Regions from separate parts of the Homo sapiens genome. Here region 2 is linked to region 1. A link means that fine-mapping ties the variant in region 1 to the expression of a gene that starts in the linked region. Tissue or cell type: whole blood. Region 1 holds a variant in brackets; the other region holds the start of a gene. All regions are shown on one strand. Distances are from middle to middle.

Evidence for each region. PIP is the estimated chance that this variant, and not a neighbour inherited with it, causes the effect.
Region 2: ACOT13 starts here. The variant in region 1 is fine-mapped to the expression of ACOT13 in whole blood (TOPMed, PIP above 0.99).

What each region holds. Positions count from the first base shown.
Region 1 is chr6:24,687,536-24,695,626 of GRCh38, forward strand. All of the region lies in intron 1 of ACOT13 (acyl-CoA thioesterase 13), which reads left to right. It overlaps LOC124901278 (a long non-coding RNA gene), which reads right to left. Exons shown (of 2, transcript XR_007059508.1): 1 at 7,809-8,091; 2 at 2,172-7,210. Among named protein-coding and RNA genes, the nearest start is that of ACOT13, 25 kb to the left of the region's middle. The variant T/C (reference allele first, on the strand shown) is at 4,220.
Region 2 is chr6:24,663,749-24,671,842 of GRCh38, forward strand. ACOT13 (acyl-CoA thioesterase 13) reads left to right here and starts at 3,329. Exons shown (of 3, transcript NM_018473.4): 1 at 3,329-3,596. The coding sequence starts at 3,516. It overlaps TDP2 (tyrosyl-DNA phosphodiesterase 2), which reads right to left and starts at 3,151. Exons shown (of 7, transcript NM_016614.3): 1 at 2,950-3,151; 2 at 2,778-2,863. The coding sequence starts at 3,114. It overlaps LOC124901279 (a long non-coding RNA gene), which reads right to left. Exons shown (of 2, transcript XR_007059509.1): 1 at 6,901-8,094; 2 at 5,369-6,190. RefSeq lists enhancers at 2,197-2,869, 2,870-3,541, 3,073-3,367.

The DNA.
Region 1 (8,091 bases):
CATCTTTATGGAAATGAGTGATGAAGGTGAATACCTGAATGAGATGTCAAGAGGAGGAACACACTGGAGAGAAGCAGTAAAGATTTAGGACTGAACCTTAAAGACATACAGGCTTGAGAGAAAGAAAGCATGTAAAGAAGACAGAAATGGTTAGAAAGGTAAGAATAGAATTTTTTTTTTTTTTTTTTTTTTTGAGACAGAGTCTCACTTTATTGCCCAGGCTGGAGTACAATGGTACGATCTTGGCTCAACTGCAACCTCTGCCTCCCAGGTTCAAGTATTTCTCCTGCTTCAGCCTCCAGAGCAGCTGGGATTACAGGCACGCGCCACCATGCCTGGCTAATTTGTGTATTTTTAGCAGAGATGGGGGTTTCACCGTATTGGCGAGGCTGGTCTCAAACTCCTGACCTCAAGTGATCCTCCTGCCTCAGCCTCCCAAAGTGCTAGGATTACAGGTGTGAGCCACCGCACCCAGCCAGAAGAATAGATCTTATACTTACTATTAATAGAAAAACTTATAGATTTTGGACTGACTACAAAAGGGCAGTGATATTCAAAATTGATCAACATGATACACAAATAGATATTTTCAAGTTCATTGGTCATTAAAACTGTCTTATGTATAAGCAATACACAAGACAAAATAAGGCATTTTTTTTTCAAAGATCTATGCACAAAAAAATTTGTTGCAGCATTATTTGTGATATCAAAAGTGGGAAATAGCTGGGCATGGTGGCTCATGCCTGTAATCCCAACACTTTAGGAGGTGAAGGCAGTAGGATAGCTTGAGCCCAGGAGTTTGAGACCAGCCTAGGCAACAAAATGAGATCCCATCTCTACAAAAAAATAAAAAAATTAACCAGGTGTGGTGGTGTGTGCCTGTGGCCCCAGCTGTGCAGGAGGCTAAGGTGAGAGGAACCCTTGAGCCCAGGAGGTCGAGGCTGCAGTGAGCTATGATCATGCCACTGCACTCCAGCCTGGACAACAAAGTGAGACCCTGTCTCAAAAAAAAAAAAAAAAAAAATTGTGTGAGGGGAAATAACCTAAATGTCCAACCATGGGAGAATTAGTAAAAGAAATCACAGCAACTGCATGTGACTGAGTCCTGTGTTACTATAAGTCACATCTTAAAAATGACTTACTAACAGGAGCATGTCATTAAATGATGTGCACCTTAAAAACTTAGAAATTTCAATTGTTTATTTTTAAAAACATCTACATAGCACTATGTGTCAGGCACTATGCACTTTGTTCATCTGAACTCATCTTTTTATGGCGAGAGATACAATAAAAGTCAAAATACAACGGTCTGGAATTTCACCATATGAATTGGTGTTAAAATCTGATAGGTAAAAAGAACTGTAGAGACAGACTGTAATAGGTAAGTAGGCACAAAAGACATAAATAGGCTGTTCACAGAAAAAAGGCAATAAACATTAAAGGATGCTTAAAAGCACTGTGAGTCTGGCTAATGCAAATTAAAACCATGAGATACTATGTTTTGCTTGTCAGAGTGTAAAAATTAAGGTAATATGCATCTTTGAACCTAGGAGGTGGAGGCTACAGTGAGCTGAGATTGTGCCACTGCACTCCAGCCTGGGCAACGAGAAAAAGACTCCGTCTCAAAAAAAAAACAAACTTTAAAATATATACTCTTAATACCCAGCTATCTAATTTTGTCAGTCTGTCATATACAAATAAAGCATCTTTGTGATGGTAAAAAAAATATAGAAATAACACATTTTAAGAAATAGTTTGATAAATTGTAGTATATTCATAGTAGGGAATACCACACAGCTATTGAAAGAGATCTATATACATTGGGCTGGAGGCTGCGCATGGTGGCGTGCCTTCTCCTTTTGGGTCACTTAAGCCCAGGAGTTTGAGTCCAGCCTGGGCAAAATAGAGAGACCCCATCTCTAAAAAAATTAAAAATAAATAAATTGAGCTAGAGAAATGACTGTGATACATTGGGAAGAGAAAAATGAAAGCTGCCAAGTAATGTATATAATATGATCCCATTTTTGTAATTGAATAAAAGGCAAGAAAAACACCCTTTAAGAAAATTTTGTATACCCTGTGTATATATGAGTAAGCCTAGGGAATGGTATAGAATGATATTCAGCACCGAAAGAGTAGTAGGTAGGAAATTGTACTTCTATGCTGCTTTATATATGTAAAATGAATGTTTTTATTTTTATAATTAAAAATCTAATAAAAACAGTAAGTTAGATGGCGCAGAGATAGGATTGAAGGAATCAGCATACAATTAGTGAAGTAATGAACTCAAGAGTTATTCATATTTTAGAGGAAAGGAATGTGGCATAAACTCACAGCAAATATAAGTATTTTATAAAATTAATTAATTTTAGCAGTAGTGAATGGATGACCAATTTCAAGAGAAATGATGAATACATTTTCTCTGCCATGGAACATAGTCAAGATTTAGTTCTTTCTATGTAGATCCTCTGAGCTACTGCTGAATTAAAAACAGCACTAAGAAAAAACTGTAGTTTTTACTTGGCCATCCTAGGAGTTCCAGGACTTTGTAGCATACAAAGTGAACAGAGATGATTTAAACTTCTTTGTGCCTGTTTTGTTTTGTATGACTAATGGGCTGTTCCCCTGGCCTTGATTTGCCAGATTTGCATTCCTTCAGAGCATCATCCCCTCCTGGGAACTACCGTACTAGATTCCAAACTGAAGCTCAATTGCAAAAATTCTACACAATTTGCGCTTTCCCTCTTTAAAGGAGAACTGGAAGTGTGAACAAGCATTTCCCAAATCCTCAATCTATGGAAGACAGGATAAGAAAGGCTCCTTCCCTGTCAGCCCCCTTTTCCCAGGTTCAAGGCAGTAGAGAACCTGTGTATCAGAGAAGTCTTGCCAATAAGATCCATGTGATAGAGGCCTTCAGAGCACCCACCTTTATAGGCATTCCAGAATGATTCAATAAAATCTGCCACTTACCAGCCTTTGGGGAAGAAAAATATAGTGATTTCTTTTTTAATCATTAAACTTTGTTTTAGTGGGATAGTAATTGTTTTTATTCTTTTGTAGCATATCTGTCACCACCACCACTATCTCAGTGAACAAAAAGAGTGTTACTTAAGCTTAGCTAACTAACCTTCAGGGAATATTTAATTTAATTCCTGTTTGCTCTTCCCTAGGGCTTTGTTTTGCTTCCCATGGCATTAGTTTGCCAACTCTTGTTATTTTTGGCCTTCTCTTATAACCCTTGCTGTTTTGTACACTCCCTGAGGATTAGGGCAACATCGTACTCACCTTTGGATCCTCTACCCTTGCCCCATTTGCCTGCCATTTTCACTTATCCTTCAAAGTCCTTTGCAGGTGACACCTGCTATCTCTGAGAAGGCTTCCCTGGCAGCCCCAAATGTCTTCCTCTGATCTACTTCTACACCTTGACTAACTTTTGTTATAGAACTTTCTGTATATTATTGAAAATATCTGCTGATTTGTTTGTCTTCCCTCTATACTTTTTCCTTGGGAGCCAAGTCCATATGCTTAATAACCATTTGTCAAAGGGAACTTTAGTGCCTAGTGGAAGGTGCCCAGTTGAATGCCTTTTACATAGAAGATTCTCCCCATAGTTTGTTCAGTTAGTTGCTGAAGCCACTAAATATTGGGCATATTGTTATAGAATGCTCCTTGTTGACCTTCAGGTTTCAGTGTATTCATTCACTCAACAAATATTTGAGTGCCTACTATGTGCCTACACCCTTACTGAGCCAGAGACATACATTCCTTTAGGAATGTATTTAGCTACTAAAACATTCCTAGTCTAGGTACTGGAGATACATCAGTGAACACAACTGACAAAAACGCCTGCACGCAATGGAAGTTCTATTTTAGTGGAGCAAATCAAACACTAAACAAAATAGGTAAAGAGAATATATAGTATGTTAGATGGTGATAATTGCTATAAAGGAAAATAAAGGTGGAAGATAGAGAGTATTGGTGCAGGAGAACTTAAATCCACCCCCCACCCTGCCCCAAGATGTGTATTCCTGTAAGTTCTTTTTTTAAGAATTCAATTTTAAATCTTATCTGGAAAGATATCACTGAAACAGTGACGTTTCAATAAAGACCTGAGAAAGTCATGAATACTGAAGGAGGAGAGTGTTCCAGGAAGGGGAACAGAAGGTGTAAAGGCCCTCAGACTTTCCATTGCTGTGCTTTCCATTGTTTGAGGGCCCCA[T/C]TAGAGAGGGTTTTAAGCAGATGAGTAACATAATTTGACTTCTACAGCTGCTCTTTGACTTACGATGAGGTCGCATTGGGATAAGCCCATCATAAATTGAGATACTTTCAACTTAACAATAGTTTCATCTGAACATAAAGTCAAGGATCATGCTGAAGGCATATCACTTTTGCACTGTTGTTTTCTGTCAAGCAGTCTATATTTTCAAAGGAGCATTCTTGTAGCTACTATTGAGACTAAACATGGGGATGGTGGCAAGGGCAGAAATAGGGAGATAAATTGGAAGTCAGTTGCAACAGCTCAGGAGAGAAATATATCCTATATCCTTCTGAGTGAGTCCAGTATCAAGTCTGGTCTTTGAACGACTAGTTAACTCTAAGACTTAAGAGCCAGCAAAGGAGACTGGGGAGTGGCTGGGAGAGTAGGAGGAAAACCAGGAGGAGGTGGTGTCATGGGAGTTAAGGGAAGGCTAGGAAAAGTTCACGACGTCACCAAATGCTGAGAGGTCACTTAAGGGAAAGAGAGGCTGCCAAGGGTCCTTTGAGTTTTGTAGTTAGGTCATAGTTGACCTCGGCAATAGAAATAATTTTAAGAAAATTCATGCCAAACTATACAAACCAAAGTTTCTGTTTGATAATAGTTTTTATAATAAGGATGCAAATTAAAGTGGTGTTGTTTTGGGGACAGGGTCTCACTCTGTCAGCCAAGCTGTAGTGCAGTGGCACGATCACAGCTTACTGTAACCTTGACCTCTTGGGCTCAAGCGATCCTCCCCACCCCAGCTTCCCTCGGAGCTGGGACTGCAGGCACATGCCACCATGCCTGGCTAATTTTAAAAAATTTTTCTAGAGTTGGGGTCTTGCTGTGTTGCCCAGGCTGGTCTCAAACTCCTGGGCTCAAGCAATCCTCCCACCTCAGTCTCCCAAAATTAAAATGTTTTGATCACCTGTGATATACCAGGCCTTGTCCTAATTTGAATTTTAATCTTAATTTTTACAAAACCCTATAAGGGCAGTACAGTACATTATCTCTATCAATGGGGAAACCTCAGTTCAGGGTCTTGCCTAAGTCTGCTTCCAGAGCCAGTACTCTCAACCATTAAGCGGAAGCCACCTGTGTAATGAAGCTACTGAAACATACATTATAAAGCAGAAATGCTGGACTGATAACAGCAATATGGTTGAACCATGGTACTTTTATAGCATCTACCTTTCTAGAGCCCCTTGAACATAAATGTCATCTGTGTTTGTTGCTGTTGCTACCCCATCACACTGCCACATCCTGTCTTTTTACCTCCTTTCCTGCTTATATGAAGGTGCATTCATACACTGTCCTTAGACACACCTCCTGTCATCTGCAGTGTCACACACAAAGTTAGCAACATCCATGGTCAGGGAAAATTGCTTGAAAACAGCCTTATTCACAAATATACACATACAAAATTGTCATCCATTAAGATTGTCTGTTTTTCTTTGTGCTTCTGTAGACAGTCTTCTTTTGGGGGTGGCTCACGTGTTTATGTACACAGATTTTCTCATACCATATGTCACACTCCTGTGCTTGAGGCCCATTACAGACACCCTTACTGAGCCAGAGACATACATTCCTTTATCTGTTTAGCAGAGGCAGTGGAGGCAGTGGTGGTGAGCTGCATAGCAGCCAGCAGCAGTTACAGTGATGGCAGTGGCTTGTTTATCCCACTGCTCAGCAGAATGCAACCCTTTTAAAAAAAGACCAGAATGATCTGAGATGCCAAGGCTTAAAGAGAATTCTTGGTTCTCAGCTTCATAAAGGACCATCTCAGTGATGAATAACAGCATCTTCACTGCTGTTATTAGGCAGCCCTTCTCCCTATCTATCTTTGCTGAAAAAGTGAGGAAAGGAGAGACTCTGTGTCATGTGGAGTGTCTCTTTGTGATGAATTGTATCTCAGATGGGAGAGGGAGGGTGAGGGGCTATGGCAACCTGAGTCTTTTTTTTTTTTTTTGAGACGGAGTCTCACTCTGTCGCCTAGGCTGGAGTGCAGTGGTGCGAACTCGGCTAACCTCCACTTCCACCTCCCAGGCTCAAGGGATTCTCCTGCCTCAGCCTCCCAAGTAGTTGGGATTATACGTGTGCCCCATCATGCTTGGCTGATTTTTGTATTTTTAGTAGATACAGGGTTTCACCATGTTGGCCAGGCTGGTCTTGAACTACTGACCTCAAGTGATCTGCCTGCCTCGGCCTCCCAAAGTGCTGGGATTACACAGACGAAGTTGCATAAACTCATATGAATGCATGAAGTGCAAGGAAGAGACAGCACGATATAAGGCCATATATAAAAGGGACAGATTATTGTATATGTGTGTGTACATGTAAGAATTGTTATGATATACTGAGGAGCCCATTGTGGCAAATAGTGCTGAGCCATAAAAGTTCTTGCCAACCTACTGCAATTGTCCAACCTGCAGGATCCTGGGACTGAACACATCTGGACAGTTCTCTGTATTGTTAGGCCATGGCAGGTAAATTTTTGACCCCTTGACATCATAAAAGCCTCCATACCATCTTCACCAAGACACCTAAGGAATCAGAACCCAGTTGTCTGTAGCAGTCCAGGTGATATTTGAGGGTAGGCTGTTTTGCATAATGGTTAAACCTGAGACATCCTAGTTAAACTTTTCGACAGTTTCTCATCTGTAAAATGGAGACAATAGTATTCACTTCAAACATTGGCAGCACTGAGACAGCACATGTCAAATTGCTCAGCATGGTCTCTAACATGGAGTTAGCTATGTTGATATAACTGAATAAACAAGTGTGTGCCCTACAGCCCATCTTTACCAAGGCTGAGATGTTTTTTTCACAAGGTTCTCTCCCTACTCCCCTTCCTCATCAGAAAGAAGTTAGCTTTGCATTGGCCTCTTCCCCAGCAAGACTACTTATTAGCTCTGGGAGGGTGGGCAGGACATTCCTTCATCATCTTCCGTTGGTTTAATTCTCTTATTTGACCTGAGGAGACAAGAATTGAGAACATATAAAGGCATTTATATTGCCATATCAGGCTGCCCAGTAAAAAATTCTCTCTATTCCAATGTAAATTTTAAAACAATTTTATTAGTATGTCCTTTGGCCTTTCAAGTTGGGGGGAAAAATCAAAACCAGTATTCTGTACTAGAAAAATCTAACTGACATTTGTCTTACATTTTGTCATCCCAGCCAAAGTTAGGTAATCAAATGGAACTTTAAGAACTAAGCTTTACTGAACAAACTGTGCCTTAAAATACACTTAAACTGAGGCGCGGTGGCTCATGCCTGTAATCCCAGCATTTTGGGAGGCCGAGGTGGGTGGATCACCTGAGGTCAAGAGTTCAAGACCAACCTGGCTAACATGGCAAAACCCCATCTCTACTAAAAATACAAAAATTAGCCAGGCATGGTGGCACGCACCTGTAGTCCCATCTACTCAGGAGGCTGAGGCAGGAGAATCACTTGAACCTGGGATGCAGAGGTCGCAGTGAGCCGAGATTACACCACTGCACTCCAGCCTGGGTGACAGAGCGAGACTCTGTCTCAAAAAACAAAAACAAAAACAACACATTAAAACTACCTTTGCTGTCTACAAGCCGCTCGTATTTAGTTCTATTTCTTCAACTGCCTGGCTTTTTCCCTTATCTTCACCTGGATAACTCCTGCCTGTTCTTCAAGACTCAGATGTCGTTCTCCAGGAAGCCTTTCCTAATGTCTTTTCCCTGGAAATATACATTTTTAAAAGTTAGATATCTTTACTCCAAGAAACCTGTATTTATTCTGTCTACAACAGTTTCTTCCTCTGCAGTTTTTGTACTTGTCTCTTCCTTTAGACACTGAACCCGCTAAGAGCAGGGATTAAA
Region 2 (8,094 bases), 24 kb before region 1:
AGAGGCTGGGGCCATGCTTCCAGTAGAGCCTGCAGAACTGTTAGCCAATTAAATCTCTTTTCTTTATAAATTACCCAGTCTCAGGTATTTATAGCAACACAAGAACCTAATACAAATATCTCTGCAATTTATGCAACACCCACAATATTTAATATTTAATGCAGCAAGAAAAACCAGGCAACTGTATTAAAAATTTCCTTTTGGAAAAATGAAAAGGGAAATAAACTCTAAAACGTTGCTGTACAGAAATACTAAGGGAACAGAAAGGGACTGGCAAACTTTAGGGGCATGATTTGTTGACTTCATTCCTAAGCAGAGGAGGAAGTGCTTTTGTCAGTATATCTGGTGTCTTAGGTTTTATGTGTTAGGCCAGTGCTCCTCAATTTTAAATCACCTGGAGATCTTGTCAAAATACAGATTCTGATTCAGTAGGTCTGGGTGAGACCTAAGATTCTGCATGTCTAACAAATTCCCGAGTAGCAGTGGCACGCTGCTGGTCCAGAGTCCACACTCTAAATAACAAGGCTCTGGGACACGGGCTTTCAATGCTGGCTCTGCATTAGAATTACCTGCACAGCTAATAAAAAAAAAAAAAAAAGCCAATAAGGAATAATGGGCCCCACTCAAGACTAATGAAATTAGAATCTCTGGTTTTTTTTTTAAATTCCCCAGATAATTCCAATATGCAGCTAAGATTCAGCATAGCTGTTTTAAGAGGATTTCCCTTGTCTCTCATCAGAGACACTGAAGATAGATTCTAATGTAGGGGACTAAATCACTTTAGTGTTCAATTTCAATTTTTGTTGATATCCCAGGAATTCACTCCAGAATTGAGATTCCTGCGCCATTCATTTAAGACAGCCAATGCCCTTGCTCAGCAGGGTTGAGTTTTTCTGGTCATAAAATCTTCCAATCAATTTTTTTTTCCCTTTCATTTTTGCTAAAGCCAACATCAAAAATCTAATCAGGTCACAGGCCTTAGAAACACGCTGAAGTTTGCCCCTTCCCCATTTTTCTCTCTTGAGCAAACTAAACTTTAAAACCTCACTCTCATTCATACTTGACCTGAGTTCTGAGAGACAAGAGACCACAGCCTAATCAACACCTTTGCTTGTTTTTGCCAATTTACCATTCCGGGGTAAGAGAATCCTAATAGCCATGACACCATTGATCAGCTTGATCCGCATCTTTTCTGAGGGCCTATTACAGGAAATCCACTTATTTTGTTACTATTTATTGGTTACAATATAGTCTGTTGCAACCAACAGACATTAACTCAGGTTGGTTTGACCAAAACAGGAGAATTTATAAGGAAACAAACATGTCACAGAGCCTGGTACAGAAATACAGCCATGTTTAAGGAAGGGCAGTTAAGGGCTTTCTCTCAATCCTACACTTCAACTTCCCTCTGCTTCATTGTCTCTCTGCAGACCTCTGTTCTCAGCTTCTCTGTACACAAAAAAAGATATGTATGAATCCTCACAGGTGCTAAGTTAACATGTTACAGTTCCAGCTCCATAGGAAGACTCAGACTTGACTCTCTTGGTCCTAATTCTGAAACCAAGGAGAGGATCTGACTGGCCAGTTTGAGCTAGGCAAACACCTCCTAGTCCAACTTGCTCTGGTTAGTAAAACGGGAGCCAGAGACAAATCACTGTGGGTGAGTAAACAATTCCCCAACAAGAGGCAAGACAGAGAAAGGAACCTAAAGAAAATATCTTATCACATCTGTAAGCCAGTGTAGCTGAAAAGACCAAAGGGAAAATAAAGTCTCCACTATGAACAGTCAATTTTACAGGTTGTACATATAGCTGGGAGAATTTTATACATTCAGTAAATATTTATTGGGAGCTTATTATGTGTCAAATGTTGTGTCAGACTTTGGGAAATTAACAATGTACAAAACAGATACTCCTTACTAGATGTGCAGTCTAGTAGGAGACATAAAATAATGAACAGCAATTATAATACGGACTAAGGTATTGTAACAGGGGTCATGCAGGATGCTATAAGAGTACCTAAAAGGGGACTCTTACCCAGACTTAGGACATCAGGAAAAGCTTCCTAGAGATAAATCATGTCTCAGCTTGGGGCTTTAAGACAAATATTAGCAAGGAAGGGAAAAGAAAAAAATTCCAGGCACAGGTAATAAAGATCTTTACGAAGTTTCAAAGACAGGAGAAAATGACCCGTTGGAAAAAAGTAAAAGTTTGATAGGCCTGGAACCTGGAAAGGCAGGTTCTAAGTTATGGAGCCAAATAGTAGAGGGCCTTGTAAGGCAGCTACACTTTTTAAGTGCAGGAACTGGAGAGGGGCACTGAAATAACAGGAGTAGGTGTGCATTAAAAAAAAATAACAACAACAACAAACCTGTTATTCTGGCCGGTCAGCCTAGGGCCTAGAATAAATAAACAATACAGGAAGCAAGGAGACTTCCAAGTTGCCATTTTTCGATAGAAGGTTTAGCCTTCGTTCATTTGTTTCAAACCTCTCGCTTACTTATTTCCTTTCATTTGAGTTAAACATTACATTTCCATCTTTTCCTCCCTGGACCCCAAATCACGTTCGAAGCGACAGTCTGGTGCAGTGTTAGATCCGCTGCTGGGGCGCAACTCCGCGCAGCAGCAGCAACGCAAGCCCTGCTCCTCTGGCTACGCAGCTTGGAGATCTGCCTCAGCATCGTCCGCCCAGCTCCACGGCAGGTCCCAGGACGCGCAGGGCTACCTGGTATCAAACTGCCTCCGTGCGGACTGGCTCCCGCTCCCCTCATCACTTACTAGGTCTTGGGCTCAGAGATGGTTTCAGGTCGGCGTTCCAAGGCGCTCTCCTCCACCGGAGGCTCGAAGTAGGAGTTCAGAGCCCTCTGAAAAACAAAGGCACAAGGGATGAGGTTTGTGCGCTCCACCGACCTAGGTAATGGAGCCGGAAGCGAGGACAGCGAAAGCGTACTTCCATCTCCCAGTCGTTCTCGGCCAGGAAGCACTGAGCCACTGCGGCATCGCAGCTTGCGACCGAGGCAAACTCCACACACAGAAGTCGCCGCTTTTTCACCTCAGGCTCGCCCTCTTCCTCCGCCGCCTCCCTCCCGCCCTCCAGGCAACTCCCCAACTCCATCTTCCTGCCGCCTCTGCACCGCCCCTTTAAGCGGAACAGGAGGCCAACGCGCGGCTCTGCGCAGGCGCCTGTGTCATGGCGCTCCCGCATCAACCGCCCGGCGGGGAAATGCGCTGCTCTCGGAAAACTGGTGCAGCTGCGCCGCAAGGGAGCCGCCGGGGCGGTGGGTGCGAAGCGCGCATGCGCGCTTCGTCACAAGGGTGCGAGGAAAGTCAGTGAGCAAATCGCGGACCACCGGGGCTGCCAGCTCGCCTGACTCCCGGCCTCTTGCGCTCCTAGGGGCGGAGAAGGGTGCGGGCTCTTCGCCCTTTGTGTCCTCCTTCTTTCACTAACTTCTGGACTTTCCAGCTCTTCCGAAGTTCGTTCTTGCGCAAAGCCCAAAGGCTGGAAAACCGTCCACGATGACCAGCATGACTCAGTCTCTGCGGGAGGTGATAAAGGCCATGACCAAGGCTCGCAATTTTGAGAGAGTTTTGGGAAAGGTATGGGAAAGGTAGGGGAGAAGCCGTGGCTTCTAATGAAGGAAAAGAAAGCACCGTGCTTGGTGCCGTTGTGAGCTTTGAATAATTATCTCTTGTTAGGTTGTGTTCTAGTACGCCTGTAAATTCACCTTAGTAATAATGATTATTACTTTAATGGAGCCCCTAAATATGCTGGGTCGAACGCGTAAGTTCTCTATCTAAACATAGATAAGTATGGTTATGACTCGTGGAGACAGTTCCAAGGCTGGGAGGGACTTTGGAGTTTGATCCTTCAACCAACAAACGTCTGCATTGCTCCAGAGAAGAGTAAGAGAAACCTCTGCATTTAAGGCACATTACAGTCTAATTCTCTAGGCTCTAGAAGATTAGAAGATAAATAATTGCAATAAGGTACAAAAGCCAAGTGCTTGGTAGAGTGGTGAACGAAGGGAGAAGTTGTTCCTCTGTAGTGGTTTGGGAAATTTCTCAAAGGCACCCAACTCCTGAAGAAGTAAGTTAGCCCTTGGAGGAAGACTGAGTGCTTTTCTGAGACCAGCACTCACAAAGCCCGAAGGTGTTTGTTTGTTTTTGTTTTTTTAGGATGAGGTTTCGCCCTTGTTGCCTAGGCTGGAGTGCAATGGCGCGATCTCGGCTCACTGCAACCTCCACCTCCCTGGTTCAAACAATTCTCCTGCCTCACTCAGCCTCCCGAGTGGCTGGGATTACAGGCATGCGCCACCATGCCCAGCTAATATTGTACTTTTAGTAGAGACAGGGTTTCTCCATGTTGGTCAGGCTGCTCTCGAACTCCCGACCTCAGGTGAAACGCCTGCCTCCGCCTCCCAAAGTGCTGGGATTACTGGTGTGAGCCGCCACGCCAGACCTTGAAGGTGTTTGTTGTTGTTGTTGTTTTGAGATGGAGTCTTGCTCTGTTGCCCATGCGGGAGTGCAGTGACACGATCTCGGCTCACTGCAACCTCCGCCTCCTGGGTTCAAGTGATTCTCATGCCTCAGCCTTCCAAGTAGCTGGGATGATTACAGGCATGCGCCACCAAGCCTGGCTAATTCTTTATTTTTATTAGAGACAGGGTTTCATCATGTTGGTCAGGCTGGTCTCAAACTGCTGACCTCAGGTGATCCACCTGCCTTGGCCTCCCGAAGTGCTGGGATTACAGGCATGAGCCACCATGCCCCGCCAAAAGCAGGGATTTACTGAAAATGAAAGGACACTCCTGTGTTTGGGGTGTGGAGCAGCAGCTCAGGGGCCCTAATACCCCATTGAAGTCTCCTATTGGCCACTTGGTACTCATCTCATGTAAATGAAGTGGTGACCCACAATTGGCTGTGAAAAGCAACCAATGAAAGGCTAAAGTGAAGTTACAAAGTTGCCCTTATATGCAAACGAAGACGTGGCGTGCAATCAGATGGTGAAGTTACATAGTTACACTCCTATGGGAAGATCTGATTGGTTGCAGAAAGAATAATTTTTTTTAAGGGATAACTTACTTCTTAGCGTAATTTTGCTTTTTGCAACCAATCAGAGGTACTTTCAATTTCCCATCTGCCACACAGAAAAGGTGGGGGTTTGGAAAGGGAGAAGCCTCTGGTTCTTTTGTTACTTGGTGTGGGAAGTTAGGGTTTTACTTTCAATTTAGTTCTAGGAAGTCAGCGTGAAACAGCCCTAGGTTCCCTGCCTCCAGATCCGATTCTCCTGCCTCGCTTGTAAGAAAATCATGCTCCATAAGAAGCATTTATAACTAAACCTTGTGAACCCCAAAAATTTGAGACAGGTATCAGTTAATTTAGAAAGTTTATTTTGCCAAGGTTGAGGATGCGCACGCAGTGACACAGCCTCAGGAGGTCCTGACAACATGTGCCCAAGGTGGTCAGAGCACAGCTTGGTTTTATGCGTTTTAGGGACATATAAGACATCAATCAATATATGTAAAATGAACACTGGTTGGGTTCGGAAAGGCGGGACAACTTGAAGCGGGAAGGGGGCTTCCAGGTCACGGGTAGGTGGGAGACAAATGGTTGCATTCTTTTGAGTTTCTGATTTACCTTTCCTAAGGAGGCAGTCAGATACACATTTATCTCAATGAGCAGAGGGATGACTTTGAATAGAATGGGAGGCAAGTTTGTCTTAAGTAGTTCCTAGCTTGAATTTTCCTTTTAACTTAGTGATTTGGGGGCCCAAGATATTTTCCTTTACATTTGCCCCCTTTTCTTTTTTTTAAAAAAAATTTTTTTTTGGAGAAAGCATTTTAGAAGAAAAATGAGTCTTTGGTCCCAGATTTCATCTGATCGCTCATGCTAGGATGGTTTATTCCTAGACAGGTAAGTCCCAAGTTATTAGGAAAGCTAATTTTTAGAAGGCTGTGAACTCCCATGTCTTGTGAAGAGAAAATAGGGGGAGGAAGGGTGAAAAACAACAAACAAAAGAACAATCCTGGAAAATATACATAGGCCACGTTATTCTGAAGTCCATACATCAGTAGGCAGGTATGAAAGTGGCTTATGCGTGTAAATAGGTTGCTGTTATTTTCTTCTGAAGTTTAAGTTGTCTAGCTTCAGTTTGCAGGGCTTTACAAAAGCACAGCTGTTTTCAGTGACTCCTAATTAGGAAAAAAAAGGAAAAGAAAAGAAAAAAATTAAAAATATTATTTTGGAGACTTGTAGCCAGGAAAAATTAGAATTCAGCCTAAACTGTAGAAAATAATAAAAATTGAAAAAATTAGGCAAGACTAGTATCTAACAACAAGTGGACTGTAAGTTTTGAAACAATTTTTCTCTCTCCAGTTTTCCATTTTTACTAAAGACAAATCATGGTAGGACTGATTTGCTTTATTATATTTGACCAGATTATTTATATAAAGTGTAGCAAGAATAATTATTTTTCACATAGGCTTTTTAAAATTGGCTTTGAAGGAACTTTGTTCCATAGAAGGAATCTCAGATAAGATTCTTTTTAAAGCCAAGCTCAGCCATGGATTTGTACCATCAAATACCTATGAGTAGGGTGAATTTCCTCTTTTTGATGTTCCATGATAAACCAGGGGCTCCTGGACCTGTCAGAAAATGACATTCTTTACTTAGCACATATCAGAAACCCTGTACAGGGACTTTGTAAAGTGTGAGGCCAGTTTTCCCAAGGGCTTTTATTGGCTCCATAAGTCAGGTTTGATTACTTAAAGGAAAGTACACCTTTCCACTCAAAGCCTTGGTAAAATAATCAGTTTCTCCAACTGTGTCCTGTTACAAATGAAAACAGATTCTTACTGCACTTATGCAAATAACTGTATTGGCACAAGTTAAGAATACTCACAAATAGTTTACAAATTCTGGAGAAATCAGGTAGAGAGAAACAAATATGCTCCAAATTTTGTTGATTGGAGTATACTAAATTGTTAAAAGCTGTCAATAGCTCAAAAGAAAAGTTTCAAGGCTCTGAAAAACAAAGCAAAAGATCAGCAATGTTTAAGCAAAAAGTCAAAAAGATTAGTTCAGTCCCCTTAGTTAATTCCTATTCTGCTTGATATTCATGAGCATTTTAGCTCTCCATGAGTTCTGAAAGTTTTTCCTCTATTCTCATGTAACAATCTCCAAAGTTAATGGAGACCTGCATTCAAGAGGAAACAACAGGTGCTGGAGAGGATGTGGAGGAATAGTTACGTTTTTACACTGTTGGTGGGAGTGTAAACTAGGTCAACCATTGTGGAAGACACTGTGGTGATTCCTCAAGGATCTAGAACTAGAAATACCATTTGACCCAGCCATCCCATTACTGGGTATATACCCAAAGGATTATAAATCATGCTACGATAAAGACACATGCACATGTATGTTTATTGCAGCACTATTCACCATAGCAAAGACTTGGAACCAACCCAAATGTCCATCAATGATAGACTGGATTAAGAAAAAATGACACATATACACGATGGAATACTATGCAGCCATAAAAAAGGATGAGTTCATGTCCTTTGTAGGGACATGGATGAAGCTGGAAACCATCATTCTCAGCAAACTATCACAAGGACAGAAAACCAAATACCGCATGTTCTCACTCATAGTTGGGAATTGAACAATGAGAACATTTGGACACAGGGCAGGGAACATCACACACTGGGGCCTGTCGTGGGGTGGGGGGATGGGGGAGGGATAGCACTAGGAGAAATACCTAATGTAAATGACGAATTAATGGGTGCAGCAAACCAACATGGCACATGTATACATATGTAACAAAACTGCACGTTGTGCACATGTACCCTAGAACTTAAAGTATAATTTAAAAAAACAAATTTAACAAAGAAAACATTATCAAGAATAAATAATGAATCTCAAAAAACAACAACAGCAACAACAAAAAAAAACACTTTCTAAAGAGGACCAAAACAACACAACAATTGTGCGTGGATGACTAAAAGTTTTAGGGCAGCCATAGGCAAAGACACAATTGACAAGGAAATTTGATACCTCTCCTCTGTAGCACACAATAATTTTAACGTAACAATTATGA